4 linked regions of the Homo sapiens genome follow. The protein of the gene in region 2 purifies or fractionates together with the protein of the main gene of each other region. This does not show direct contact. Each region holds a gene or a part of one and is shown on either strand. Other genes may lie near its edges.

The links.
Region 1: the proteins of TRAPPC12 (region 2) and AMY1C purify together in Homo sapiens (affinity purification with mass spectrometry, with the first as the bait; 3 studies listed by BioGRID). This does not show direct contact.
Region 3: the proteins of TRAPPC12 (region 2) and TRAPPC13 purify together in Homo sapiens (affinity purification with mass spectrometry; 3 studies listed by BioGRID and IntAct, with this or other methods). This does not show direct contact.
Region 4: the proteins of TRAPPC12 (region 2) and EDRF1 purify together in Homo sapiens (affinity purification with mass spectrometry; 3 studies listed by BioGRID and IntAct, with this or other methods). This does not show direct contact.

What each region holds. Positions count from the first base shown.
Region 1 is NC_000001.11:103,745,202-103,753,047, reverse strand, and holds the start of AMY1C (alpha-amylase 1C precursor), read right to left. Parts: upstream 3,151-7,846; 5' UTR 2,982-3,150; intron 2,625-2,981; 5' UTR 2,579-2,624; coding exon 2,411-2,578; intron 2,066-2,410; coding exon 1,919-2,065; intron 1,116-1,918; coding exon 918-1,115; intron 470-917; coding exon 239-469; intron 1-238. UniProt on the Homo sapiens protein: Calcium-binding enzyme that initiates starch digestion in the oral cavity.
Region 2 is NC_000002.12:3,382,432-3,389,757, reverse strand, and holds part of TRAPPC12 (trafficking protein particle complex subunit 12), read right to left. Parts: intron 2,139-7,326; 5' UTR 2,135-2,138; coding exon 1,088-2,134; intron 73-1,087; exon of another isoform or gene 1-72. UniProt on the Homo sapiens protein: Component of the TRAPP complex, which is involved in endoplasmic reticulum to Golgi apparatus trafficking at a very early stage.
Region 3 is NC_000005.10:65,627,910-65,635,235, forward strand, and holds part of TRAPPC13 (trafficking protein particle complex subunit 13), read left to right. Parts: intron 1-1,558; exon of another isoform or gene 1,559-1,678; coding exon of another isoform or gene 1,679-2,431; exon of another isoform or gene 2,432-3,019; intron 3,020-7,326. Other genes in the region: SHLD3 (shieldin complex subunit 3), read left to right, coding at 1,679-2,431.
Region 4 is NC_000010.11:125,714,732-125,723,026, forward strand, and holds the start of EDRF1 (erythroid differentiation-related factor 1), read left to right. Parts: upstream 1-4,977; 5' UTR 4,978-5,076; coding exon 5,077-5,184; intron 5,185-6,472; coding exon 6,473-6,681; intron 6,682-8,295. UniProt on the Homo sapiens protein: Transcription factor involved in erythroid differentiation. Involved in transcriptional activation of the globin gene.

The sequences.
Region 1 (7,846 bases), on a different chromosome or scaffold from region 2:
TTTTCCAAAGAAAATAAAGACATAACTATTATCAGTATCCTACATTCTGTGTACCTCCATAAAACCTGTTGTGATAAAGAATTAGATATGCTGTATGTGAAGAAGAGGAGGTTAAAGAACACTGTTTTAAGGAAATGACTCAGTCTTTATCCTACAGAAATTGCATTTTTAATTGAATCTGCCGTGAATTTTCTAATGAATAGGATGATATTTTATATGCCTATATGTATTGACGTACCTCCTGGTAAATGAAAGGTTTACTACCTTCCGGGAACCAGTTACTGTTTAGATTATGCAGTTTGTCCAAAATTGCCTTTATGTCTCCAGGCCACATGTGCTTGGAAGCATCAATTCTGAACCCTGCAACACCAATGTCAATGAGATGGTTCATATATTCGGCAATCTTAGAACGCACATAATCCTTCCCCAGTGCAAGATCGAGAAGACCAGACAGACGACAATCTCTGACCTGTTGAGGTAAGAATGTTATGATTGATTAATAAAACCTCACTTTTCGCCTGAGAATCCATTTGATTATTCATTTATTCCATGATTCCTCAAGAGATATTCTATGGTGACTTCCTTGCATTGGACACTGGGGATGCTCACATTCTACTATAGATGTATCTTGGAAATATTTTCTAATAGAAAATAGAGAACTTAGGAAATAAAGTCGATGAGTTTTTCAATTGGTTGGGAGCTTTTTAAAAGTGGACAAATGTGTATTGATTAAAAATCTTAAATCAATATTTAAAGGTTTTCAAATATGGATTTGAGTTTCTTAAAGTAGTCAAACTTGTTAACCTCTGTCCCTAAGAGATCTAAATTCATATTTACAACGAAGTTCAATTAGCTACATGTCTACAACAAAAGGCATATATCACTCCTTATTCAGATCACTCTCGTAAAAAAATTACCTGAGTAGCATCATTATAGTTCTCGATATCTCCACTTCCAGTTTTACATTTACCATCATTAAAATCCCATCCAGAATATGGGACTGCTGGAAAGTCCCTACTTCCAGGGTTGAAGTAACTTCCACAGGTACTGCTTGTTCCTGCACTCACAGCATTACCACACATATGATTAATTACAGCATCCACATAAATACGAACCTAGAAAACAAAGTTTCTAATTCAGTGTGACTTACAGAGAGGCAGAAATTTAAAGAATTATTGATTAAATTTATAGTGTGCTAATAAAATTCCAAAATATTTCATACCTTATAACTATTTTCCTACAAGATCAAAAATCAACTGTGAAAGGAAAGTAATGTGAACTAAACACCTACATTCATTCCAGACACTTGGCCAAATATATATAGGAATGATAAACTGAGAGAACCGGAAACTACCATAAATAGGAGGAAAGGCAAAAAGCCCATTTTGGGGAGACACAACTCAGATGAGACTGAAAAGGTTACTATTTGGGAAATTTCAGTGGGTCACCAGGAGAAAGCCTGTACTCTCTACTAAGCTTGGAAGACAAATAAGGTAGCTATTCATCTCAAATTCTGCTCCTCATTAAATAGATAAGCTACCTATTCACCACAAAAAAAACCCAAGAATTAGGAATGGAGACACAAGTCATCTAAAAATGAGAGCAAATATTGTAACTGGAATTAAAATTCCTCACCAGAAAATCCTTCCAGGAAATATGGATAGTTATAGCGGTTAAAATTTGATGTTTTGCTTCAGAAGTAAACTCTGCTATAAACTTTAACTTATCTCTTTAGTAGAGAGCACATATACAAATATTTTCAAAAATTGAACATAAGGTGACAGTTACTTTTGAGTTTTAAAGTATGAAGTAAAATTAAAACTGATATGGAAAACTTTCTGCTCAAAAGGAGCAAGAAAGAAGAGACAGAAATCATTTTCCTATCTGTTATTTTTAAAGGAAACTAGAATTCACTTACCCCAACATTGTTGCATCTAGTCACCATGTTTCTAAATTCATCTTCATTTCCAGATCTTGTGCATAATTTATAGCTAACTGGTTGGTATCTTTCCCACCAAGGTCTGAAAGGGTTGTGAATGGCAACATTTTCATTTGGTGGAGAGACCTACAAATTAAACAGTCTTCATAAGTACCAAATTCTGTCTTACTGTATATCATTGAATGTTCTAGAATCTAATCAATAATACAAAAGATTCTTGAATCTTGGTATAGGCAGCTATCTCTTGAAAATATTAACAGCACATCGGAGGGCTCTTGTTGAAGAAAGATTATATCAGAAACAAAATATACAGTTGCAAAGAATACTACATTGTTTTTTCCTCAGAAAATTCTTTTACTTAGAATACTTACCTGTGAAGTAAAATGTTGCCCAAGCTTCACGTAGAAGATCAGAATAGTGTTTACTACAAGCACAGTGAATTCTGCAATTGATACTATGAATCATACCCACCTGAACCCCTCCAAATCCCTTGGGAGCTAAATATCGCTCACATTCAAGAGCAATATCAACCCATCGCCATTCAAACAGATGAACAATAGATGTTCGTCCTTGTTGTGTATTTGAGGAATACTGAGCCCAGCAGAACCCAATGGTGAAAAGCAACCAAAAGAGCTTCATTTTGCTTTGAAGTTGTCAGTGTCCTTTCCAGAAACTATTTATATTCCTGTAAGAAGCACATTTTACAATGTAAATAGTAGCATGAATAAATACTTGAGGGCAAACTGTTTATTCATAATCTGAAAAGGATTATCAATAATAATCCTAACTGGTGAAGAACATCAAAAAGTCTCTCATGGAAATCATCTCAATGACCTCTTAGACATTAATGTTTCTTTTCTTTTCTTTTTTTTTTTTTTTTTGCATATGGTAGCACTTTTATTTTTCCTTACACAATGACATGTTGCTGTGGCCTAATGTTCTCACATAACAGCAGAAAACCAAAATTTGTTGTCAACTCTTAAAAGATCGAGAATTGCATACTAAAAAACTTTACATAAATTAAAAGGATGAATACATTTACCGGTATAAATGCGAACCGCTTCCAACTCAAGGCAAGTAACAGCCCACGGTGCTCTGGTAGATAACGTAAGCTAAGAAAGGAAACTGGGTCCTATGGCTTGGACTTTCCAACCCTGACAGACCGACAAGACGGAAACAACTGGTTCAGGAGCCCTTCCCAGCCTCTAGATAAATCTCAGAACACTCAGCCCTGACACATTAATACCCTGCACGGATCAGAGACTGCTGACCACACAGACTCACCAAGCCAGACTTGTCTTCCACAAGCACGTTTTTAGCCATGAAGTGACCAAGCCACGTGTACTAAACACTGACATCAAAGGTATGTACAGATACCAAGGGGAAGAGTTAACTTGAATGCCAGGCCAAAATCAGCAACAAGTTCTACAATCCAGTGCTGATATTGAGAAGAGAGAAAGACCCTGTCCTCTTGTTTTATATTGTTTTCTATTCAGTAAAAACAACAAGGAAGCAAAATCAAAGGCACAAAACCAGGCCTGGGCCTGGTTGGCCTAAACCCAGTAGTTACAAATCAACTTATGATTTAGAAGCCGATGTTATTCATAGATTCCAGACATTGTATAGAAGAACATTGTGAAACTCCCTTCCATATTCTGTTTCTCCCTGACCACGGGTGCATGTAGTCCTTGTCGCATATCCCTGGCTTGTTCAAATCAATCACGACCCTTTCATGTGACATCTTTAGTGCTGTGTGCCCTTAAAAGGGACAGAAATTGTGCACTTGGGGAGCTCGGATTTTGAGACAGTAGCTATCCGATGCTCCCAGGTGAATAACACCCTTCCTTCTACAACTCGGTGTCTGAGAGTTTTGTCTGCCGCTTGTCCTGCTACATTTCTTGGTTCCCTGACCTGGAAGCAAGATAACTGATGGACGGCCGAGGCAGCTCCTTAGGCAGATTAGGCATGCCTTGTGGAGTAAGGCCGGGGCATCCCTCAGGCTGCCAGGGACTCTGGCCAGCCTGAGGGATGGGATCCAAAGAGCGCTCCCAGGTAGGAAATGGCCCCGGTTGAACGCCTCGCCAGAGCAGTGATCCCCGCGGAGGATTAACACAGTGGCTGAACACCAGGAAGGAACTGGCACTTGGAGTCCAGACATCTGAAACTTAGTAAGACAAGTCTTTTCAACTTGCCCCACTCCACCTGAGCGGAAGCTTGGCCTGATCGCTCATGGTGTGCCTGCACCCATATCAATTTCCATATAGAGATTCCTAGTTACAGCTAGTTTTAGATCCTCTACAGTGGTAAAAGGACAGGCAGCAGCAGTAGTAGTAGCAAAGGGACATTTATTTCAGGAAAGTTCTCGCTCCACCGGCCAAGAGAAGCCAGCACCTAAAGTTCTGTTTGACCCAGAGCTCGAGGACTCAAGGCAGGAGATGGCACCAACAGTGCCCTCAACCCCTTATCCAGTGGGGAGGCCCCCTTCTCCTGAGCCCACAGCCCCTAGACCACCCAGAGTAGACAAGAACAAAAGTGAAACTGCGGGAAAATCCACTTCCCTGGCAGCCCGCTTAACGGCCCAAGACGGGAATTCAAATGCCCTGAGAGAGCAGCGATATACTAGGACAGATGAGGTCAGACATACGGTAGAAAGGCATGCTTTTGTGTATCACCCTTTTACCTCTGCTGAACTACTCAACTGGAAAAATAACACTCCATCTTACACTGAAAAGCCTCAAGCCCTAATTGACTTGCTTCAAAGAATTATCCAGACTCAGAATCCTACTTAGGCTGATTGCCACCAGCTACTCATGTACCTCTTTAAAACACATAAAAGGCAACAGGTGCTGCAGGCAACAGTTAAATGGCTGGAGGAGCACATCCCAGCCAATTATCAAAGTCCCCAAGAATACATAAGAATTCAGCTGCCAGGAACGGACCCTCAATAGGATCCAAATGAAGGACCAGATATGGAAAGGCTAAGAGGGTACCGAGAGGCATTAATTGAAAGGTTGAAAAAAGGGGCTCAAAAGGGTACCAATGTAAATAAAGTTTCTGAAGTCATCCAAGGAAAGGAGGAAAGCCCAGCCCAGTTCTATCAAAGACCGTGTGAGGCCTATTGCATGTACACTCCTTTCGATCTGGAGAGTCCTGAAAATCAGCCGTTGATTAATACGGCCTTAGTTATTCAGAGTGCAGAAGATATCCAGAGAAAATTGCAAAAACAGGCTAGGTTTGCAGGAATGAAAACCTTGCAGTTACTGGAAAGAGCTAATGAAGTATTTGTAAATAGAGATGCAACAAGCGGCCAAGAAAGCCGTAAGGAGGGCGAACGCCAGGCCAGGTGAAACGCTAGTTTGCTGGCTGTGACAATTAGAGGAATTCTCCTGAAAAGGCAGAAAAAAGGGGGTTCTGGGAGGAATGCCCTGTCCAATCACTCACATTTGCAGCATGACTAATGTGCCTACTGTAAAGAAATAGGACATTAGAAAGATAAATGTCCCCAACTCAAAGAAAATCAGAGTGATGCAGAGCCAAAGACCTCAAACCAAGATGAAAGGATTTTGTTCAATCTAGCTGAGGGGCTGCTAGAATTAAGGGGAACAGGCTCAAATGCCCCCAAGGAGCCCATGGTCAGGATGACAATAAGGGGCAAAGACATTAAGTTTTTAGTGGATACAAGAGCCGAACACTCAGTAGTAAGCACTCCAGTGGCCCCCTCATCTATAAAGACGATTGATAGAATTAGAGCAACAGGAGTCTCTACCAAGCAGGACTTCTGTCTACCGCGCAACTGCTCAGTGGGAGGACACAAAGTGATTTATCCATTTCTGTATATGTCTGACTGTCCCTTGCCTTTGTTGAGAAGAGACTTGCTTAGCAAGTTAAGAGCCACCATTTCCTTGACAAAACAAGGCACTTTACAGCTGGAGTTGCCAGAAACAGGAGTCATCATGGCCCTTCCAGTCCCCCAGGAAGAAGAGTGGAGACTTTTGCTAACTGAGCCAGCTCAGGAAATAAAAGTGGCTCCAGCTGAGTGACGGCTCTGAGTAGAGATGGAGGACAATCCTCTGAGGCTGGCAATCAATCAAGCCCCCGTACTCATAGAAGTTTAGCCTACGACCTAGCCAATTGGACAAAAGCCGTATCCTGTTCCCAGGGAAGCCTTTAAAGGAATAGAGACTCATCTTATATGCTTAAAAGCCTCTGGAATTCTAGTTCCTTGCCAGTCTCCATGGAACACCCACCTCCTACCTGTCCCTAAACCAAGGACCAAAGACTATCGACCCGTACAGGACTTGAAAGATGCCTTCTTCACATCAGGCTAGTTCCTGAGAGCCAAAAGCTGTTTGCCTTTCAGTAGGAAGATCCGGAGTCAGATGTCACCATTCAGTACACTTAGACTCGACTTTCCCAAAGGTTCAAAAAGTCCCCCACCATCTTTCGGGAGGCCTCGGTTGGAGACCTCCAAATGTTTCCTGCTAAAGACCTAGGTTGCATCCTGCTCCAGTATGTAGATGACCTTCTGCTAGGACACTCCATGGCAGTCAGGTGTGCAAAAAGGACGGGTGCCCTGCTTCGACACCTGGAGGACTGTGGATATAAAGTGCCCAAAAAGAAAGCTCAGATCTGCAGACAGCAGGTACACTACCTAGGATTCACTATTTGAAAAGGGGAGTGCAGTCTATGGTCAGCAAGAAAGCAGGTCATCTGCAGCTTACCAGAACCTAAAACCAGGAGGCAAATAAGAGAACATTTAGGAGCTGTGAGATTTTTGCAGACTGCAGATTCCAAACTTTGTGGTGTTAGCCAAAGCATTGAATGGAGTTATAAAGGGGGTGACCGAGAGCCTTTTAAATAGAGGTCTCTACAACAACAAGACTTATAAGTTAAAAGAAAAACTTATGTCAGCCCAAGCTGACTCTAATGTAACTCTAAGGAACACCAAAAGACACCATTGGCTAACAAATGCTACATTAACTAAACACCAAAGCTTGTTATGTGAAAATCAATGTATAACCATAGAAGTCTGTAATTCTTTAAATCCTGCCACTTTGCTCCCAGTATCAGACAGCCCTGTTAAACATAACTGTGTAGAGGTGTTGGACTATGTCTATTCTAGCAGACCAGATCTTTGAGACCAGCCATAGGCATTGGTAGATTAGGAGTTCTACATGGACAGAAGCAGCTTCATCAACCCGCAAAGAGAAAGGTGTGCAGGATATGCAGTAGTAAACTTAGATGATGTTGTTGAAGCTAAGCCATTGCCTCAGAGCACTTCAGCCCAAAAAGCAGAACTCATTCCTCTAACTCGGGCTCTGGAACTCAGTGAACCTAAGATTGTAAACATCTATACTGATTCTTGATATGCCTTTCTAACCCTTCAAGTATGTGGAGCATTGTATAAGGAAAAAATTCTAGAGGAAAAGACATAAAATGTCAGCAAGAAATTCTACAATGATTAGAAGCAGTGTAGAAACCCCAAAAGGTGGCATTCATGCATTGCAGGGGATATCAGCGAGTTTCCGCTTCGGTTTGCCAAGGAAAGCCCTGAGCAGACACAGAGGCAGGAAAAGCAGCATCTACTCCTTACCAGACATCAGTCACAGCCCTGCTACTCCTTCAAATGCTTGATCTGGTGCCAACTTATTCTAAAGAGGAAAAAGAATTTTTTCAGACAGAGAGAGGACAAACAATAAAGGAAAGATACATAAAGTTACCAGATGGAAGAATAGCAGTGCCACCGCTGCTATACAGTCATGCTGACTGTATGTGAAACTACCCATTGAGGCCAAGAATCACTTGAAAAGCTGTTAGGCCAGTATTTCTACATCTCACCCTTGCCAGCTGTTGCTACAACAGTAGCGCAGTGATGCCTTACCTGTGGACAGCACAATGCGAAGCAAG
Region 2 (7,326 bases):
CGTTCTTCTTGGAGGCAGGACAAGAACTCAGGACTCCGCGGAGTGCAGGTACCAAGACAGCAATAACACTGTAACCCTCCATCCCCCACCCCCTTCGGCTGCCCCACTCAACGGGAAGCAGTGGTCTGTTAATGCGCCCGTTTAGAGCCGTTAAGATGCCCGTTAGTCCGGCAGCAGATGCGGGTCGAAAAGAGCTGTGTGCACGCTGTAACATCCCCTCTCGGGCTTCGGGGTCGCGGTTGTTGCTCTTCGGGCGCCACGGTGTTCCCCTCGCCTGGACGCAGGAGTCCACTGTGGGAGTCACTTGCCACACGCCTGGTCCAGCTACAAGCCCCGTGTGAAGCCTGCTCCTATGCTGGCGGTTGGAGCAGCCCCCGGACCCCTACACTCAGTTGCTCGCACAACCCACCTGCTGGGGGCTGAGAGCACAGTCACCGAGGCCACGGGATATGCCAAAGCGCAAGCCAGGTGCGGCCCGGCAGGCCTAGTGGGCGAACCTGGGCCGAGAGAGGCCTGGGCAGGGGCATCGCCGACCACGGAGGTCTCCAGCTGGCAAAGCGGCACCGAAAAAAACCCTGCATCAATTGTCTTTCATTAGTAGTGAGATCGAACATTTGTATGTTACCATTTAGCTTAACATTTATATATTTCTGTGATTTGTTACTTTTTGGGTCACGCGTATTTTTCTTATTCAACCTATAAAAATTCTACATCGGGCACATTATATGTTACAGGAATATATTTTTCCATATTTTAAAGAAAGAAATGGATTTATTATTAACTGGAGTTCAAATGTCAAATGGATTACAGGACATGGAGAACTGACTGAGAGAATTACGGTAGAACTGTCTGCCTTGGTGGTATTTATTTCTACCTCTCTGAGTAGCAGTCCATTAAATATGTTCTGTTGGGGAAACCAACAGATCCCTAATTACCCAGGGACAGAGGAACACAGGCGCTCACAATGGGATGTTAGGAATTACTGAAAACAAGGCCTTCTCCTTCTCCATCCCTAAAGGGGCACTGTGCGTATCTCACAGACGCAGAGAGGAGGCACGGGCTGCGGAGGTGGGAGACCCGGGCTCACCTGGATGTTGTCGAACCTGAGGCCCGGCATGGTGAGGTTCTCCTTGTCCACGAACACGGCGCCGCGCTGCTGGGTGGCCACGGCCCGCAGGACTCCACGCGTAGCCTCGCCGGGAAGCCAGGCGTCGTTCCTCCGGTCCATCTCGCTCATGCTCAGGGCGGTGGCAAAGGGGTCGTCACTCCCTGCAAACACTGCCTGGATGTGCGCGAAAGGCTCTGGCGACGCCGGGGGCGCAGCTGCCTGGGGCCCTCGCATGGCCACGGGTTCGGGGCGCCCCTCGGTCCCGGGCACAGCGAGGGGAGGCGGGCTGGCGGGGGCCGGGGAGCCCGCGCCGGGATTGCTGACGGAAATGAAGGCGGAGGTAGTAAAGGAGTCGAAGAAGTCCGAGGCCAAGGAGTGGCTGGCGGCCGTGTCTCCGAAGAACGTGCTGAGGCTGGGGCTGGGCTGCACGACCTGGGGCGGTGTCCTGGCCGAGGCCTCGCTGGCGCCACCGAAGCTGGGCGACTTCACCATCTGCGGCTCGAAGCCGTCCCCGGAGGCTGGGGGCGCGCGCTGGCTGAAGATGGTGCACACCGGGACCGGCTCCGCAACGGGAGGCTCCTGCTCCGGGCGCGCGGCTTCGCTGCCTGGGACCTCGCGGGCCGCGTCCTGCCTCGGGGCCCCTCCGCTACTGGGTGCCGCGTCCTCGGGGGCACAGTCGCCGTCGGCCTCGCCGCTGGGACTCGGGGTGCCCGCGGGCTCCGGGCCTGGGTCGCCTTCCCCTCCGGGCTCAGCTTCGTCCCGCACTCGGCCCAGGTCGCCCGCGTCGCCCTCGCTGTTGGGGGAGTCAGAGATGAGGACGCTCTCCATCATGTGTTCGTTCAGCTTGTCCGCGAGAGGACTCGAGCCTTCCGATGCGGTCTCGTTCTCTTCGGATCCAAACTCATCTCCGCCAAGATCGATGGTTTCCTCCTGGAAGAGCAACCCCTGCTCCTCCGGAGGCGCGAGCTGAGGGGGGTGCGGGGCCTCCGGGGCCGGGGTCTCCTCGCCGCCGCCAGCGTCCTCCATGACCCTGAAAGCAAAGACAGAGAGAAGGCCCCTGAGCGTGATCTTCATTCACCTCAACCGAAAAATGAGTATTGCTTATAGATTCAAATGACGCAGACTTCCATTTCTCCAGCTTCTTATCCATGTGCTTTTGATTATGGTAAAATACACATAAAATTGACCACCTTAAGTTCAGTAGTGTTAAGTACATCTACATTTCTGTGCAACCAATCTCCAGAACACTTTTTATCTTGCAAAACTAAAATTCCATCCCCATTAAACATTCCCCCGTATACCCATCTCCCCCGCCTAGAGCATCCACCATTCTACTATAAAATAAGTGGAATCACCCGATAACTGTCTTCCTGTGACTGGCTGATTTTACTCAGTATAAAGTCCTCAAGGGCTATTTATGCTACAGCTTGGTCAGAGTTTCCTTCCTTTTTATGGATGAAAAATATTCCATGGTATGCATACACTACATTTTGTTTATCCAGCTATCTGTTGTTGAACACGTGGGTTGCTCCCATCTTTTAGCTATTGTGGATGCTGCTGCAATGAACGTGGCTGTACAAACAGCTCTTTGAGACCCTGCTTTCAATCATTTTGGGTAAATACCTAGAAGGAACTGCTGGATTATATGGTAATTCTATTTTTAATTTTTTTGAGGCACCAAAAAACTGTTTTTCATAGTGGCTGAACCGTTTGTCATTCCCACCAACAGTGCACAAGCCTTGGAATTCACATCCTTGCCAACACTTGTTATTTTGTTTTTATTTCATAGTAGCCATTCCAGTAGGTGTGAGGTTCCAGCCATATAAACACTACTTCATTCTGAGAGTCAGCTAAGTCCCTCCTCTTCCATGAAGCCCTCCCAAGACTCTTCAATTTGTAATAGTCTCTTGACTTCCCCATGCCGTCCGCCCCTACCCCCGCCCCACGCCCCAGCTCATATTATCTGCCTGACTCTGGAAATCTGATACAGTGCGAATGACATGAAAAATTTAAACAGTAAGAAAACAGCACACTCACTAAGCACTGATGGCTGAAGCTGACAACACAACTAGCTAACATTTATCCGCACATACTATGCCCCTGGCTATATATACATATGCCTGTGTGATTCTCAGAACACCCCTCGAGACAGCTGCTATCACTGTCTTCGTTTCGCAGATGAGGACACTGAGGCCTTGGGAGGCTATGTAAGCCGAAATCACACCGCTAGTGAGTGGGGAAACCAGGACCAGCCAAAGAATGAGACAAAGAGCTCAAACTGTAAAAAAGTATTTGTTCTTTTTCTTGAAAAACTTTTACTTTATGTAGTTTTACTCTCATAGTGAACAAATTCAAGTTAAGGAAATCTAAGAGACTATGATAAAAGATAAGGGATTTTTTTCAGAATAAAACAACACGTACCTTTTTTACTTAAAAAATGACACTTAGCTGATCTCTAGATAAGACTACCCTTTTCTCACTGTCAACACTTCCATCATAGTATTCCCAATGAGTCAGCCTTCCCAAAACATTATTTTAAAGTACATAATCCAAGTTATACATTTTGAAGAAGTTTCCGGTTCAGCCTGGTCAGCTACTAATTCCCTTATACATTCATCCAATAATTGTTAAGTATAAATGAATAAAAAATCCAATGAAAAGGAGTAAAACGTTTTTTTTCCTGCCATGTTTCACCGGGAGCCCGAAGAACAAATTGCCCTAGAACCCCAAAGGGGGAGCCCCCTGTGCATGGTAAGGCTGCTCCTTCGGGTCCTTCCTGTGCAGGGATAGAGGCCGGGCACAAGGAGCAAACAGGCAGCATGAGGCAGTGCCCCCTCTGAAGTCTCCCAGCAGGACTTGAAGGCACTAGCGTGGTCTGCGTATTTTATTTTAGAAATAAGAATTGATTTCGATATAAGCTAATGATGAGAGAAAGGGATCTTCCCTCCGTCTCATCTACCCTCAGCCCTAACAAAATTCTAGGTTCTAAAGCTAATTCTGATTCAATCTCACAGATTTTAAAAGTTTTATTGCCTTTGTGAAGAAACTTTTTAAAGAAACAATTCTTACTATTGTGAAGATGAAGCTGCTTTAAACCTGTAAGATTTAGGGAAATCTGTTTATCAGAGATATAATAACAAAAAACATCGCCTAGAAAAACCACCAAAATAATAAAAATTAAGGTAAAATGCTTCTAAATTATAAAGCTTAAAAACTTTATAAATTGTAAATTAAGGAGAACTGATAAAATGGGAATGTCCAAAATTTTCATTAATACCTGCAAACCACTTTTGAGAAGAGAAGAAAATAAAAAAATAAATTTTATTCTTAAGTAAATACCAAAGTAATAAAAAGCCCTAATAATTTAGGGCAAGGATGATCACTTTTGCTTTCACACAAATAAAATCTAGATGCAGGAAAATGCTTGTAAGTAAGGATCTGAGGGTTTCTTCTCTAGAAAATCAAGAGGAATGCTCAAATAAAAATGATATAAAACGTGATTTAGATGATGCTTTTATGAATGGGAAGACATACATATATTATAAAGCTACATCTATATAAATTATATACATAAGATTTTGTGAGAATGGACATATAATTTGTAGCAAAATAGCTTCTTCACTTCAAGGGTTTCCTTACTCTAATCTTATTCCAATGTAAGGTTCAAATGCAAAGCAGACACTAGTAATAACCATGTATATATGACGAGATAGTTCTATAACCATAAAAAAAGTATAACCAGTAGTTAAGTCTTCCTACAAAGAAAATATAGGGTCCAGAGGGTTTACCAGTGAATTCTACCAAAGATTCCGTACAGATAATTCCTACAGTACAAAAATTCTTGCAGAGAAGAAAAAAGACACATGACCCAATTCACTTTATAAGGCTAATATAACCTTGAGACCAAAATTTGACAAGGCCATACTAAAAGGGAAGCTATCATCTCACTCATGAACACACATGCAAAAATCTTGAAATATTAGCTAACTGAATCAGCAATGTATTTATTTTCTACCAAACTCAGGTAATCCCAGAAATGTACTGTTGGTTTAATGCGATAGATTAAATAAAAGTACATGACTATCTCAATAGATGCACAAGAAAGTATCTAATAAAATTCAGCATCTGCTCAAGATAAAACCTGTCAGCAAACTAGCAACAGAAAGTAACTTCCTTAATGCAATCAAAGGTATCTACCAAAAACCTAAAGGAAACCTCAAATTAACAGTGAAACGTTTAAAGCATTCTCTTTAAAAGTAGAAAAAAGATAAAGATGTCCTCTTCAACATTTTTATGCTGCCTAATACTGGAGTCCTCGGGCAGGATTAAGGCAAGAAAAATAACTAAAAGCTACAATAAAAACTGAAAAGAAAAAAATACAAACCTTCATTCTTCGTGTATGATTATTTATGTAGAATACATCAAAAATCTATGGTATAAAGACTGAAATATTGGGCCAGGCACGGTGGTTCAGGCCTGTAATCCTAGCAATTTGGGAGGCCGAGGAGGGTGGATCACCTGAGGTCAGAAGTTCAAGACCAGCCTGGTCAACATGGTGAAACACTGTCTCTACTAAATATACAAAAATTAGCCAGGTGTGGTGGAGGGCGCCTGTAATCCCAGCTACTTGGGATACTGAGGCAGGAAAATCACTTGAACCCAGGAGGCGGAGGTTGCAGTGAGCCGAGATCGCACCACTGTGCTCCAGCCTGGGCAACAGCAGCGAAACTTCATCTCAAAAAAAAAAAAAAAAAAAAAAAAAAAAAAAAAAAAAAAAACAAGACTGAACTATCACAAGGGAATATGTAGCACACATCAAAGGAAGAGACGATTTTCCTTGAGTGATGTGTAGACAAATCATGCAGCTGGGAAAAAATAAACTTGGAATCTTGTCTCACCACAGACACAGTATCAATCTCAGGGACGTTAAAAACTTAACTGTGAAGGCCGGGTGCGGTGGCTCACGCCTGTAATCCCAGCACTTTCGGAGGCCGGGGCGGGCGTATCACGAGGTCAGGAGTTCAAGATGAGCCTGGCCGACATGGTAAAACCCCGTCTCTACTAAAAATACAAAAATTAGCCAGGTGTGGTGGCGGGCACCTGTAATCCCAGCTACTCTGCTACTCGGGAGGCTGAGGCAGGAGAATCGCTTGAACCCAGGAGGCAGAGGTTGTAGTGAGCCAAGATTGAGGCACGACATTCCAGCCTGGGTGACAGAGAAAGACTCCGTCTCGGGCGGGGCGGGGGTGGGGGATCAAAAATTAACTGTGAAAGGCAAAACTTCAAAACTTTCAGAAGAAAATATAAGAGAATATATTTTCAGAGTAGGCAAAGCCTCTTAAACTAGGCATAATCAGTACAAACCATAAAGGGAAAATGGATACATCTGCTATATTAAAATGGAAAGTTCTATCATTAAAAACCTAAAAAAAGTGAAACAAACAAATGTAACTGAGAAAGGATTAACACGAAGAATACATAAAGAATCCCTACAAATTAATAAAAGCACACTAAATGATCCATTAGAAAAATAAGCAACAGAGCTGAAAGAGGTATACCTTTGAACATCCATGTTGAGAAACCACTTGGTATTATCTAGTAAAGTTTAAAAAGCACATTATCTTATCACTTTGATAACTATACATCTTGATTTTTCCCAGAACAATTCAATTTTTCACCCATGGTTTAAGTTATTTCTATTATTTTATTAGTATTATTATTTTATGAGACATAGTCTGGCTCTGTCACCCTGGCGGGAGTGCAATGGGACGATGATGGCTTACTGCAGCCTCGATCTTCTGGGCTCAAGCCCATCCTCCTGCCTCAGCCTCTGGAGTAGCTGGGACTACAGGTGTGCACCACCACACTCAGCTATTTTTGTATTTTTTGTAGAGATGGGGACTCAATATGTTGGCCAGGCTGGTCTCAAACTTCTGAGCTCAAGTGATCCTCCTGCCTTGGCCTCCCAAAGTGCTGAGATTACAGGCGTGAGCCACGTGCTTCGCCTCAGTAAAATCATTAAGTGTCTCCTTTCACTCTTAAAGGAGTCTTGGTTGAGACAATAAATATGTGGTCGTAGTACCTAGGACCTAGCAATTCCACTGCTAGATACCTATCATGGAGGAATTCCTGTACATGAGCAGTGTAAGCTATGATGCTGAATTTCATAAATAACACATCAAAATACCTTTCTTCTAAAGTCCTAAAAGAAAAAGTAG
Region 3 (7,326 bases), on a different chromosome or scaffold from region 2:
TCAGACAGTGATTCTATTGTGAAATGATGACAAGAATCCATACTCATGGTTATCCTAGCAGTGGGAGAACCCTCATCAAGTAATTCTCTAATGATTTTTGGGGAGAAGGGATTCAACTTATTTTTTTCTGCTGTTGTTAGGATGTGAAAAAGTCTGTTTTATGGCTCTTACAGCTTTGGGCCTGATTAGCAAGCCTAACTTGCAGATATTGGAAGGCTCCATTCTTGAGCCTATGCACCATATGCTGGAATTTATTATCAGTGACTTAATTTGGGGCAACTTGAGGACTTCTGTGCTCTAAGAGAAAAAAATAGGAGTCTAGACTTCTTGTTCTCTTCCAAACTGGAATTCAAAAGCCATGGTATTGGGGTCTCCATACTGTTTAATTGCCTGGATTATGAGGAGAAGACAGTGTCACAAAACTGGTTCTTAGCCTGGTTAAACCATATTAGCAAAGTTAAACCATATTAATGGTTTTAGTTTTTACTACAGAGAATGACGTGAAATCATCAAATATTCTATCTATATATTTGTTTGGTGGAATCCATATAATTTTTTTTTTTTTTTTGAGACGGAGTCTTGCCCTGTCACCCAGGCTGGAGTGCAATGGGAGTACGATGGCGCGATCTCAGTTCACTGCAAACCTCAACCTCCCGGGTTCAAGCGATTCTCCTCCCTCAGCCTCCTGAGTAGCTGGGATTACAGGCACACGCCACCACAGCCGGCTATTTTTTGTATCTTTAGTAGAGCCGGAGTTTCACCATGTTGGCCAGGCTGGTCTCAAGCTCCTGACCTCGTGATCTGCCCGCCTTGGCCCCCATAAAGTTCTGGGATTACAGGCATGAGCCACCGCACCTGGCAAATCTACATAATTTTAAGTATAAAATGATTAATTTTCTTCCAGACAGATTAGAATTTTTTTTTTTTTTAATGAGATGAAGTCTTGCTCTATCGCCCAGGCTGAGTGGCATGATCTTGGCTCACTGCAACCTCTGGCTCCCAGGTTCAAGCTATTCTCCTGCCTCAGCTTCCCTAGTAGCTGGGACTACAGGCATGCGCCACCACACCCAGCTAATTTTTTTTTGTATTTTGAGTAGAGATGGGTTTTCACCATGTTGGATTAGAATTTACAGTGATTTCATTGTCCTCAATTTAGTTGCCTCAAATTTTTAAATATTACATTTTTTGTTAATTCATATGAAAACAATATTTTAAGAATCATTCATTTACTCTTTGTTTCTGCTAAAGTTTTAAGACTATTATTACTTAATATATTAATATCGATACTTCCAAGTCCTTTATATCTATTGAGTTAAACATGTTGACTACTAGCGTTTTTAGGCAGGAAGTGATTTTATAGGGCATCTAGTTCAGATCCCTTATTTTGGTAAGAGAAAGAATTTTCAGGTTTGTAGATTACATTCACATTTACCAATAGCACTTTGGTAAAATACCACATTGGGATTGGTTTTTGTTTTTTGTTTTTCCTTTTCTCCCTGCCTGTTGGTAGGCAGGGTATCCCTACCATATCTTATTCTTTGCAATACTTCTACTTTAGGTCCTGTTTCCCTCTGATTTGGCAAGAGAGACAATCTTGCAATAATAAATTAACATTCTAGCTCTGAGGAGTTCAACTAAGAAATTTTCTCATCACTAAGAGTAACTGGATTACTGCAGAATGACTACAGAAGTAATATTACATTATCGACCATGTGAGAGTGATCCCACACAACTGCCAAAAATTGCAGAAAAAGCAATTCAAGACTTTCCTACTCGTCCGCTATCAAGATTTATACCTTGGTTTCCATATGATGGGTCCAAGCTTCCACTCAGACCTAAAAGATCACCACCTGTGATTTCTGAAGAGGCAGCTGAAGATGTGAAACAGTACTTAACCATTTCAGAACATGATGCTAAGTCACACAGTTATGATTGCACAGTAGATCTATTGGAGTTTCAACCTAGCTTGAAAAAGCAGCATTTAACCTGGTCACACACACTGAAGGAACAGACTAATTCTGGAAATCTGGGTAAACAATCAGAAAAGGGAAAACAGCACAAGAGGAGATCTTGGAGTATTTCCCTTCCCAGCAATAATTGTACTAAAAACGTTTCTCCTTTGTCTAAAAAATTGCAAGATAGTTTAAAGGCACTAAATTTACACTCACTTTATAGAGCAAGATGGACAATAGAACACACTATTTGTAACAGCCAAACTCTGGAAGACATTTGGACAAAACTCAATCAAATTATTAGGCACAATGAACTTCCATCTTGTAATGCTACAATTCAGAGGCATTTAGGCCAAATATGGGTGTTCTGTGATATTATGTATTGTGAATATGTGGGAAGTCTTCTTAAAGGAAGATTAGCTCTTACTGGAAAAATTAATTTATTTGTGCATAAATATGGTGTTATTTTTAGTATGTAATGAATTCCACTGATTGTCAAAAAGAATATTCTGAATGAAATGAATATGGATTGAAATAGATAAAATAATTTTTACAGGTTTTAAAATTTTTAATGACTTTTTAGAATTCCTAGGCTTGTCAATTAAGTCAAGAAATTGCTGAGTTCTGCTTATTGGCAGCCTTCTTTTAAATGTGATAAATTATTGTTTACACTGAATTTGAAGGTAAAAATGTTCTGTTCCTTTTGTTACAAACTGTGATTGAATTAGTCATGAATTAAGTTGTATAGTTTGGATTTTGGTTAATCTCTAAAATCTAATTTTACTGTATTTTTTTCCTTACCTCAAGTGTAATTTTTTAAAAAATAAAACTCGAAACAATTCTCTTTGGAGTGCTATTTATGTGGCATGAATGTAGTTCAAAGTGGGAGACTAGTCTAGATTTATAATGATGTTTCCAAAGATATGTAATAACAATTGATAGGCTGTTTTCAAACAACGATACAAAATGTATACTTTGCCTAAAACGATAATGTATCCTGTTTTGAAGGAAAGTATCAAATGTTGAATGATTGTTTATTTCTTCTAATACAGATAATTCAGTATTAATGATAGTTAGTGCTAATTATTACTTGGCTGATGATTGGAGTCATTGTAGGTTCCCCATAAGCATAATCTTGTAATTGGTTTTACACATCACCTCATAAAAATGCTCAAAGGGATTAAAACAGTAAAAGTTTTGTAGAAGCATGTATGTTTGTTTAACATATTTAAATGCCTACTTTGCACTAGGTGCTAGGATATACTAGGGAAGGAGACAGACATGGACCTTGCCCTCACACAGCTTACATGTCATTACTACTATTAAACACACCAGCTCCCTAAGAAAAATAAGACTGCACTTAACTAGGAATATAGACATGTTTACCTTGAAGCTCAGTGCCTGTCATGGTAGGAGCTTGATAATGCATGGTAAACATTCCCTTCAGAGGGATTCTTCATAGCCTGAGATGGCTGAGGTTGCTTAAAATGGAAGCCCACTAATTTTTTTTTCTTTCTAACTTTTATTTTAGGTTCAAGGGGTACATGTGCAGATTTGTGATATGGGTAAATTGTGTGCCACAGGGGTTTGGTGTACAAATAGTTTTGTCACCCATGTAATCAGGATAATACCCAATAGGTAGTTTTTTAGTCCTCACCCCCTGCCACCTTCTACCCTCAAATAGGCCTCAGTGTCTATTGTTCTGTTTTTTGTGTCCATGTATACTCATTGTTTATCTCTCACTTATGAGAATATGTGGTATTTGATTTTCTGTTCCTGCATAAATTGGCTTAGGATAATGGCCTCCAGTTGCATCTACGTTGCTGCAAAGGCCATAATCTGAAAATATGAAGAAAAAAGTTGCTTTTAATACCAAGTTGGGATCACTTTATTTTTAATGGAGGATCATTTTTTACCCACCATCTCATCCCCTGCTAAACCACAGGAATCATGAAAAACTAAGCTTTATAGGACTTTTCTTTATAATAGAAATTGGAACCTATAATAAGCAAATATGTTAGCTACATGTTTGGGTGAACTCCAGGACACTAAGAAAAAAAAAAAAGGAATGTTTCAGGATTCCCTTGAGACTGTATTTTCTCTTTATTCAGATTTGTTTTCTAATGAAATGAAAAAAATAATAGGGAAGAAATAGAAAACACCAACTGGTACTAAAAGTGAACTTACCAGCCTGGGCAACATGGTGAAACTCCGTCTCTACAAAAACTACAAAAATTAACCGGGCATGGTGGCATGCGACAGTAGTCGCAGCCTCTTGGTGGGCGGGGGTAGGGGGTGGGTCTGAGGCAGGAGGTTCACTTGAGCTCAGGAGGTCAAGGCTGCAGTCAGCCATGATCGTGCCACTGTAGTCCAACCTGGGTAACAAAATGAGACCCTGTCTAGTGATTTTAGCTGTTTAAATTGGGAGAAACTGCCTCCTGTGTATCACTTTCAGGGCACCTTTTTATCTGTTTTCAGGGCACCTTTTTCTCTGTTTTCGTAGTTAAAAATAAGAGTGAAGGTTGGAAACGCCTCCCCATATTCATCTGTAGCTGATTAATACTCTTTGGAATACATTCCTACTTTGAATTCCCATGGGGTATTTCTGGTAAGGCATGACATTCCAGGTTTATGGCTCCAGGCTTATAATTAATAATTATTATAGAGAATTATTTTTCAACAGAGTGAAATCACCAGGGTTCAAATCTAGATTCTACCACTTATCTACTAATATAATCCTTTGTATGCAAATTACCCTCTGCAGGTATTGTCAATGCCCTATCTGTATATTGGGGTTAATGTAATACCAACTTAGAGAGTACTCATGAGAATTAAATGTGTTCAGCTTGTAAAATATTTAGCATAATGCCTGGCGCTAGTAAATGCTCAGTAAATGCTAGCTATACAGAGTAACTTCAGAAATTTTAAGGGTAGCATTTGTTGACTATTTCAAAAGCCAGCTGCTTAATATAGCAGGTTTTTAATTGCCTTCAGTTTCTGAAACTTACACTTTCAAAATAATGTCAGTTATTTAGGGACTTTCATGAAGTGCTAATTATTTTATTCAGGGAAGATCTGAATAGCAGAACTTACACCAAATATGGATGCTACAAAACTGAACGTAGTACATAAGAGCCTAGACCTCATGGAGTTTGGAAAGGAGTGCTATAAACAAATAAATATACTGCATGATAAATACAAGGTACCATGAGTGAAACAGAATGACCTGTTACTTTTTTTCTGAAAAAGATGACATTTAAGCTGAAACCAGAATGAGAAAGCCACTAAATTTGATATGAATGCCATAGTTGGTTAATTAGTAGTTGGGTGGTACATTTTTACATATGCTAGAACATTACTTATATTCTGAATTGACCATGTAGGTCTATAGTCTTTATAGTATTTTGGCTTTGATTTGAAGGAATTTTTTTTTTTTTGAGGCGGGGTCTTGCTCTGTTGCCCAGGCTGGAGTGCAGTGGGCGATCTCAGCTCACTGCAAGCTCCGCCTCCCGGGTTCACGCCATTCTCCTGCCTCAGCCTCTGCGAGTAGCTGGGACTACAGGCGCCCGCCACCATGCTAGGCTAATTTTTTTTATTTTTAGTAGAGACGGAGTTTCACCGTGGTCTCGATCTCCTGACCTCGTGATCCGCCCGCCTCGGCCTCCCAAAGTGCTGGGATTACAGGCATGAGCCACTGTGCCCAGCCAGATTTGAAGGAATACTTTTAATAATGAACTAGCCCTCTGTGATTCATTTTCTGAAAAATTTTACAAGTTTTTATGATTTTTTAATTTTATGTTTTTGTTTTTATTTTGATGTGGTCAAACGACAGTCTTTAGAAGTAACTGAAAAAGATTTTTAAAAAAATTATAGAGTGTTTACTCATTAGACTATAATAAATATTCAATTTCTTTTTTTTTACTTTTCTGTGGCTTAATTTTTGTCTATTTATATTTAAAGTGAATTTTTTAGTTAAATTTTATTTTCCCAGATAGCTAACCATGTCTTTGCACCTTATAATGAATAATCCTTTTGCTAATTGATTTTTTTAACTTCTAATCCTTTAATTGATTTTTTTTTGTCAAGAGGTTGTTTTTTAAAATATCTCTCCCAGCGTTTTTTTTTTTTTTTTTTTTTTTTTTGAGACGGAGTCTTGCTCTGTCGCCCAGGCTGGAGTACAGTGCCGCAATCTCGGCTCACTGCAACCTCCGCCTCCCGGCTTCATGCCATTCTCCTGCCTCAGCCTGCCGAGTAACTGGGACTACAGGCACCCGCCACCACGCCCAGCTAATTTTTTGTATTTTTAGTAGAGACGGGGTTTCACCGTGTTAGCCAGGATAGTCTCAATCTCTTGACCTCGTGATCCGCCCGCCTTGGCCTCCCAAAGTGCTGGGATTACAGGCGTGAGCCACCATGCCTGGCCACTCCCAGCAATTTCTTTATATAAGTATATCCTATCTTTTTTTTGAAAAACTAATATATCGGTATGGTCTTATATTAATAAGTCAATTAGTTGATTATGGACTTAAATATGTTATAATATGTAGTAAATTCAGTTCTTCCTCTTTTTTCTCCGTTAATTTCCTTAGCTTATTTTCATTTATTTGTTTCTCTAAATAAACTTTAGACACATTCTGTCATGTTCCAAAAATAATATCTTACTTTTGATTGGAATTATATAAACGTATATGTTTTCTGACATTTTTGTAATTTCTACACAGAATTAATATTACTTGAAGAAACACTTGGCCGGGCATGGTGGCTCATGCCTGTAATCCCAGCACTTTGGGAGGCCAAGGTAGGCAGATCACTCGAGGTCAGGAGTTAGGGACCAGCCTGGCCAACATGGTGAAACCCCGTCTCTACTAAAAATACAAAAAAAAAAAAAATAACCAGGCATGGTGGTGCATTCCTGTAATCCCAACTACTCAGGAGGCTGAGGCAGGAGAATCTCTTGAACCTGGGAGATAGAGGTTGCAGTGAGCCGAGATCGCACCACTACACTCCAGCCTGGGTGACAGAGTAAGCCTGTCTCAAAAAAAAAACAAAAAACACTTACTGAGTTTCCAAAGTTAATATTTTGTTGATATTGTTTATGGTGAAATCACTTAGAATTTTTTTAAAGCCTTATGCTCCTAATACTCTTTAAGCTTTAAAAATTATATTTTCCAGTTTTTCTATAATGAATGCATATTGTATTTACATTTAATTTTTATAATTCATAGGTTGTAAATAAATGGTGCTTATTTTGTAACATTACAATTCTTAATAAATCACTGATGTGTGATAACCTTAGGAAGTATGTAGTATTATATTTAGGAAGTATTTAGGTTATATTTTATGTTAGTATAAAATGGATGAATGTCATACACTA
Region 4 (8,295 bases), on a different chromosome or scaffold from region 2:
CCCCCACCCCACAACAGTCCCCAGAGTGTGATGTTCCCCTTCCTGTGTCCATGTGTTCTCATTGTTTAATTCCCACCTATGAGTGAGAACATGCGGTGTTTGTTTTTTTGTCCTTGCGACAGTTTACTGAGAATGATGATTTCCAATTTCATCCATGTCCCTACAAAGGATATGAACTCATCATTTTTTATGGCTGCATAGTATTCCATGGTGTATATGTGCCACATTTTCTTAATCCATTCTATCATTGTTGGACATTTGGGTTGGTTCCAAGACTTTGCTATTGTGAATAGTGCCGCAATAAACATACGTGTGCATGTGTCTTTATAGCAGCATGATTTATAGTCTTTTGGGTATACACCCAGTAATGGGATGGCTGGGTCAAATGGTATTTCTAATTCTAGATCCCTGAGGAATCGCCACACTGACTTCCACAATGGTTGAACTAGTTTACTGTCCCACCAACAGTGTAAAAGTGTTCCAATTTCTCCACATCCTCTCCAACACCTGTTGTTTCCTGACTTTTTAATGATTGCCATTCTAACTGGTGTGAGATGGTATCTCATTGTGGTTTTGATTTGCATTTCTCTGATGGCCAGTGATGGTGAGCATTTTTTCATGTGTTTTCTGGCTGCATAAATGTCTTCTTTTGAGAAATGTCTGTTCATGTCCTTCGCCCACTTTTTGATGGGGTTGTTTTTTTCTTGTAAATTTGTTTGAGTTCATTGTAGATTCTGGATATTAGTCCTTTGTCAGATGAGTAGGTTGCGAAAATTTTCTCCCATTTTGTAGGTTGCCTGTTCCCTCTGATGGTAGTTTCTTTTGCTGTGCAGAAGCTCTTTAGCTTAATTAGATCCCATTTGTCAATTTTGGCTTTTGCTGCCATTGCTTTTGGTGTTTTAGACATGAAGTCCTTGCCCATGCCTATGTCCTGAATGGTAATGCCTAGGTTTTCTCCTAGGGTTTTTATGGTTTTAGGTCTAACGTTTTAAGTCTTTAATCCATCTTGAATTGATTTTTGTATAAGGTGTAAGGCAGGGATCCAGTTTCAGCTTTCTACATATGGCTAGCCAGTTTTCCCAGCACCATTTATTAAATAGGGAATCCTTTACCCATTGCTTGTTTTTCTCAGGTTTGTCAAAGATCAGATAGCTGTAGATATGCGGCGTTATTTCTGAGGGCTCTGTTCTGTTCCATTGATCTATATCTCTATTTTGGTACCACCATGCTGTTTTGGTTACTGTAACCTTGTAATATAGTTTGAAGTCAGGAAGTGTGATGCCTCCGGCTTTGTTCTTTTGGCTTAGGATTGACTTGGCAATGCGGGCTCTTTTTTGGTTCCATATGAACTTCAAAGTAGTTTTTTCCAATTCTGTGAAGAAAGTCATTGGTAGCTTGATGGGGATGGCATTGAATCTGTAAATTACCTTGGGCAGTATGGCCATTTTCACGATATTGATTCTTCCTACCCATGAGCATGGAATGTTCTTCCATTTCTTTGTATCCTCTTTTATTTCATTGAGCAGTGGTTTGTAGTTCTCCTTGAAGAGGTCCTTCACGTCCCTTGTAAGTTGGATTCCTAGGTATTTTATTCTCTTTGAAGCAATTGTGAATGGGAGTTCACTCATGATTTGGCTCTCTATTTGTCTGTTATTGGTGTACAAGAATGCTTGTGATTTTTGTACATTGATTTTGTATCCTGAGACTTTGCTGAAGTTGCTTATCAGCTTAAGGAGATTTGGGGCTGAGACAATGGGGTTTTCTAGATATACAATCATGTCATCTGCAAACAGGGACAATTTGACTTCCTCTTTTCCTAATTAAATACCCTTTATTTCCTTCTCCTGACTAATTGCCCTGGCCAGAACTTCCAACACTATGTTGAATAGGAGTGGTGAGAGAGGGCATCCCTGTCTTGTGCCAGTTTTCAAAGGGAATGCTTCCAGTTTTTGCCCATTCAGTATGATATTGGCTGTGGGTTTGTCATAGATAGCTCTTATTATTTTGAGATACAGCCCATCAATACCTAATTTATTGAGAGTTTTTAGCATGAAGAGTTGTTGAATTTTGTCAAAGGACTTTTCTGCATCTATTGAGATAATCATGTGGTTTTTGTCTTTGGTTCTGTTTAAATAACTAAAATCAGAGCAGAACAGAAGGAAATAGAGACACAAAAAACCCTTCAAAAAATTAATGAATCCAGGAGCTGGTTTTTTGAAAGGACCAACAAAACTGATAGACTGCTAGCAAGACTAATAAAGAAGAAAAGAGAGAAGAATCAAATAGATGCAATAAAAAATGATAAAGGGGATATCACCACCGATCCCACAGAAATACAAACTACCATCAGAGAATACTACAAACACCTCTATGCAAATAAACTAGAAAATCTAGAAGAAATGGATAAATTCCTCGACACATACACCCTCCCAAGACTAAACTAGGAAGAAGTTGAATCTCTGAATAGACCTATAACAGGCTCTGAAATTGTGGCAATAATCAATAGCTTACCAACCAAAAAGAGTCCAGGACCAGATGGATTCACAGCCGAATTCTACCAGAGGTACAAGGAAGAACTGGTACCATTCCTTCTGAAACTATTCCAATCAATAGAAAAAGAGGGAATCCTCCCAACTCATTTTATGAGGCCAGCATCATCCTGATACCAGAGCCGGGCAGAGGCACAACCAAAAAAGAGAATTTTAGACCAATATCCTTGATGAACATTGATGCAAAAATCCTCAATAAAATACTGGCAAACCGAATCCAGCAGCACATCAAAAAGCTTATCCACCATGATCAAGTGGGCTTCATCCCTGGGATGCAAGGCTAGTTCAATATATGCAAATCAATAAATGTAAAGAATAAATTTTAAATCACTTCATTTTACGGCTCAGAGGTCTGTTTTGTGGACACAGAGACAGAAATGGAGACGTTTTTAAAATTAAGATCATATTGCACATTGGCTTTTTTTTTTTTATACGGAGTCTCGCTCTGCTGCCCAGGCTGGAGTGCAGTGGTGCAATCTCGGCTCACTGCCAGCTCCGTCTCCTGGGTTCACACCATTCTCCCGCCTCAGGCTCCTGAGTAGCTGGGACTACAGGTGCCTGCCACCAAACCTGGCTAATTTTGTTTTTGTATTTTTAGTAGAGACGGGGTTTCACCGTGTTAGCCAGGATGGTCTCGATCTCCTGACCTCGTGATCCACCCGCATCTGCCTCCCAAAGTGCTGGGATTACAGGCGTGAGCCACCGCGCTAGGCTGCATATTGGCTTTTTAAAATTTCACTTATCACTTAACATTATATGATATGCAATTTAAATGTTCTTAAATATTCCTGAAAAACAAGTTTATGGTTGCACAGGGTTTATTTTCTACCAAAACCAAATTTGACTATCCTCCTCCTAGTGTTAGATATTATGTTCAACTTTTCACCATAAAAAACAATGCATAACTTGCAAAAACCAAAAAAGAATTATTGGCTGCAATATTCAAATGAAATGATAAAAATCAAAATCAATACATGTTGAAGTAAATGTCTACAAAATACACTATTATATCAAATTAACTGTTAAATTTAATTCACTATTATTATTTTTTTAAGACAGAGTCTCACTATCGCCCAGGCTGGAGCGCAGTGTTGCCATCTCTGCTCACTGCAACCTCTGCCTCCCAGGTTCAAGCGATTCTCCTGCCTCAGCCTCCCTAGTAGCTGGGATTACAGGCGCCCACCACCACATCTGGCTAATTTTTGTATTTTTAGTAGAGATGGGGTTTCACCCTGTTCGTCAGGCTGGTCTCGATCTCCTGACCTCAGGCAATCTGCCCACCTCGGCCTCCCAAAGTGCAGGGATTAAAGGCGTGAGCCACCGCGCCCGGCCTGTTAAATTTAATTCATAAAATTGTTTTGTTACATTTGAAAGCAATTTGTGAGTTGAATGCTTACTCATCAGGAGCATTCCTGAAAACGGACAGGACAGTGAGTTGTAAGAGCCAAACGTGAATTACAAATTGAGACAGCCAAATTGCAAGAGCCAAGTTAATTTTTAAAAACACTTTCTGTATCTTACGGCACAACAAAACACTTTTACTACAAAACATGTATTGTATAACGGATGTGGCTGCGTTTGACAGTTTGAGATGACACTGAGGAGTGTGAAAGAGAGCCTGGACCTTCAAAGCTTGCAAACGGCCCGGGCTATTTCTCCACCTCTTCGCTACTCAAAGCGCTGGCATCGTTTCCTGGGAACCTGTGAGAAATGCCGAGTCTCGGACCCATCCAGAGCGCCCGAATGGAAACCTAGGCGTTACGAGGCCCCAGGTTCAGCGTCTCACGGGTCCTGCACCACCTGGGACGCCCCGCAAGCAGCGGGCATGCCGGGCCCCCAGAAGACTCCGAAAGCCACCCATTCCCTAAACGGGGAGGGCCTCGTCCGCGCGTCCCAGCGCCCTCCCCGGAAGCCCCGCCGCTCCCACACCCAGGATGGGGCCACATGGGCACTAAAAGGCGGGCAGGAGCGCCCAGTCTCGAGATGGCTGGCTCGCCTTTCCAGTCCGGGCCCTCGGGGTGCCCGTGTGAAAAGATGTGACACTGAAGCCTGGGGAAGAAGTTTGAACCTCTCACTAATTCACGTAACGGGAGCCGCCGGCAGCGCTGACGGCTGCACCTCCCCTCCCACGCGGACACTACCTGCAGGATCGGACGACCCCCAGAACTGTTTGCCAACAAAGACATGCAGGGGGCGGAGCCTGAGCGTCAGATACCGTGAGCGGCGTGCAGAGGGCGGAGCCTAGGAGTCAGATACCGCGAGAAGTAGTCTCCCGAAGAGGTTCGGACAAGCGCAGGCGCACTACAATTCCCGCCCTGGCCGCGAAGGTGGCACCCGCAGCGGGAGGCGGGGCCGGGCCTTCGGGACAAAGATCGCGAGATTTAATGGCGAGTCACAGCTACTTCTTCCTGGCAGAGACCGGAAGTGCGGTCCGCGGAGCGTCTCTGGCGCTTACCCTGCTTTGGGCCTGCGTTGCTGCTGCTGCTCCTCCGCTCCCCCGTCGTATCGCCTGCCCTGGATCGAAGTGATGGGGGATGCCAAGGAGGCCGGAGCCGAGGGTCCGCCGGCCGGGGCCGCCGCTCGAGGAGGGCTCAGCCTCCTGTCCCAGGGAGAATCCGAGGAATCTTCTGCACAGGTGAGTCCTCCGCGGAGGGGGACCTGCCAGGGATGTGGGAGCGGAGGACCCGCTCCACCGGGGAGGGATGCCACGGTTCCCGGCAGATTCTGGAGGCTTCTCCATGTTTCCCTGACACCCCCAAAACAGGGAGTTGAAGTCCATGCTCCAGTCGGCAGGTATTCGTATTAAAAGCAGTTCTGGTAGCCGACAGGTGAATTAGATACGATCTTTCCTCTCAAGGAGGGTACATGTAAATATGTCGTTCCAAAACGTGGCACAGTCGTGCAAAGCAGGAGGGAAGAAACGGTGCCAGGTAGTGACTCGCCGAGAATGAGACCGAACTAATTCACAAAGGGTGTAAAATGTTTGCCATGCAGAAGAGGTACTGCGTGAAAGGTTAGAATATTGAACCCAGACGCCGAACTTGCTTTGGGAGTGTGCAAGTGCAGGCTGTGAGGAACGAACCCCCAATGCCTTTCTATGAAGTTAGAGACTCAAGAGTATTTGAACCATGCATGCATGCATGAACCGATGCATCGATTACTAAATATTTGCATTAAAACAAAAAGCCCAAATGTTCTACCAGACTATTTTATGAATGATGTGTTATTAAAATTAAAATACATCTTTGGCCGGGCGCGGTGGCTCACGCCTGTAATCCTAGCACTTTGGGAGGCCGAGGTGGGTGGATCACCTGAGGTCGGGGAGTTCGAGACCAGCCTGGCCAACATGGCAAAACCCTGTCTCTACTAAAAATACAAAAATTAGCCGGACGTGGTAGTGCACGCCTGTAATTCCAGCTACTAGGGAGGCTGAGGCAGGAGAATGGCGTAAACCCCAGAAGCCGAGGTTGCAGTGAGCCATGATTGCTCCACTGCACCCTAGCCTGGGCGACAAAGCAAGACTGCGTCTCAAAAAAAAAAAAAAAAAGAATTAAAATACATCTTTAATACTGAAAATAGGCTTTACTAAAGTTTGCATCTAGTTAACATGATACCATTGAGTCTCCTTGGTTTCTGCTTCTCCACTTTACATGAATACATTTTAAAAGAGATGTGGGTGGTCCATTTTCTAGCTGATAACCATAACCATCATACTCCTTGACTCATCTTTTTTCTTTGAAGTTGGTGTAAAAGAACTAAGTAAATGTTACCATTTATGCTCAAATTTATTAAGTGCTGTTAGTAACATGTGGCATACGTTCCTTGTGAAGCCTGGTGTGACAGGTTCTTGTTTTCTTTTTATAAAGGTGAGATTTTTCGTTCTTAGTAATTTTCATTAAAGTTTCACCCAATGTGTTAATTAGGGATCAGCTTTATTTCTTGGAGGCAATGAAGTGAAGAGCCGAGCTGTGGTGAAATACTCTTCTGCCCCTCCTCGAACAGCATTTGCACGCCTTGAAGAGAAAACAGACTTGAAACTCCCACCTGCCAACTGGTTACGAGAGAGTGCCAAACTAGGGCCAGCAGGAACTACCATTCTTGGCAACAGCAAGAAAAGCAAGCCATTTTCAAGGTAAATATTAATCAGTGGCATTTTTACCTGCCCCTCCACCCTCACTTAAAACTCTTATTTGCTTTTAAATTCAGTTTGTAATGCCTATTAACTTGTCGAGATTTCTCTTTAGAGAAAGATCACATTTGATTTTCAAAGGCTTTTTATTCTGATAATAGATGATGTTAAAACATGAAGATATACATACAATATCAATTGCATATGCTTCTTTTAAGTCTACGTCATGTTATCAGCAAAGATGAGTTTTGACTGCCAAAGTTCAATCAGCCCTTTCATTTTAGCCAATTTGCATACCTTTTGGATATGTGAATACAAAGGATCAGCTTGGTGCATGAGGAGGAAAACCTTGAACATTCCTTCATCTTTCCTGTGGAGTTTTTCATTAAATGGTGGCAGGTTGATCTGGAAAAGCCAGATTTAAAAACCCAGCATGTTGGGTGACCTACACCTTGACTTTGACACCAGAACTGATGGTGTTCAAAGTTGAGAGAGTAGCCTGAGGTCTTATAGAGAAAAATGTATTAATGTACATACTGTAGGACATTTAATGTGTAGGGTTCTCTTTTCTTCTTCCCCCTTCTCAGCAACTCAATCTAAAATATTTCCATGTAACTTGTAGCAAGAGGCACAAATACACTAATACTTTATGAGCTGGTATTTTGGAAATTATCCTAAAGCCTCAGAAAATAAAAGTTATATTTGCAAAAATGCTGTTTGTTTGTAGCATCATTTATAGGAGCAAAAAGTTGGGAATAACCCAAATATCATTTTTTAAAAGAATGGCTTAATCAGTTGTGATTTGTCAACATAATTAAATGTTGTGAGGAAATTTGAATAATTATATTGACTCTATACAAATGCTGTGGCAAGTATTTATATGCTTATCTCATTTAATTCTCACAACAACTCTTTGAGATAGGCACTGTTAATTATATTGCACCTGAGAAAACGGAAGCTGAGAAGAGCTAAATAATTTGGCTCAAGCATACAGTAAATCACAAAGCATGCTTTGCTGTTAGGTAGTCCTTGGTAAGTGTCCTGACTCTGCCATTTAGTAGTTGGAACATGGTGATGTCGGGTACCTTTCAGGCTTATAGACTATAGATGTGCTTCAGGTGGTACGTGGCATCAGTTGGCTGCTCAATTAACATTTTTTTTTAATTTCCTTTTGTGGCTGAATTGGTGTCAGGTACATTTTTTTCATGTATTTTTTTAAGAGGTATTGTATATCACTAGAAACACAATCTCAGAAAGTAAAATCCTGATAAATGTTTCTGTTTCTGTTTTTCTTATCTCTCCACCTAAAAAGAATAAAGTTTTGAACTATTTTCCCTTGGAGACTTTGAGTTTTGTGATTACAAAAATAAAGAATAATTGTTTTTATTCTAAATATTTCCTACTGGATGCTTCTAATGATTATTACCATGTTTTATCAAATCTAAGATGCCATTGACTTTAAGACACACCATTATTTTAGTACCACTAAGAAAAAAAAACTTGCCAACTGTGATGGTGATACACATCCTGGTTTCAGAGTTGTTAAAATGTGGAAAATGTGTATCCTAGAAGCAATGAGCTACAGTATTGTTATTAAGCTCTACTTGCATGATTATG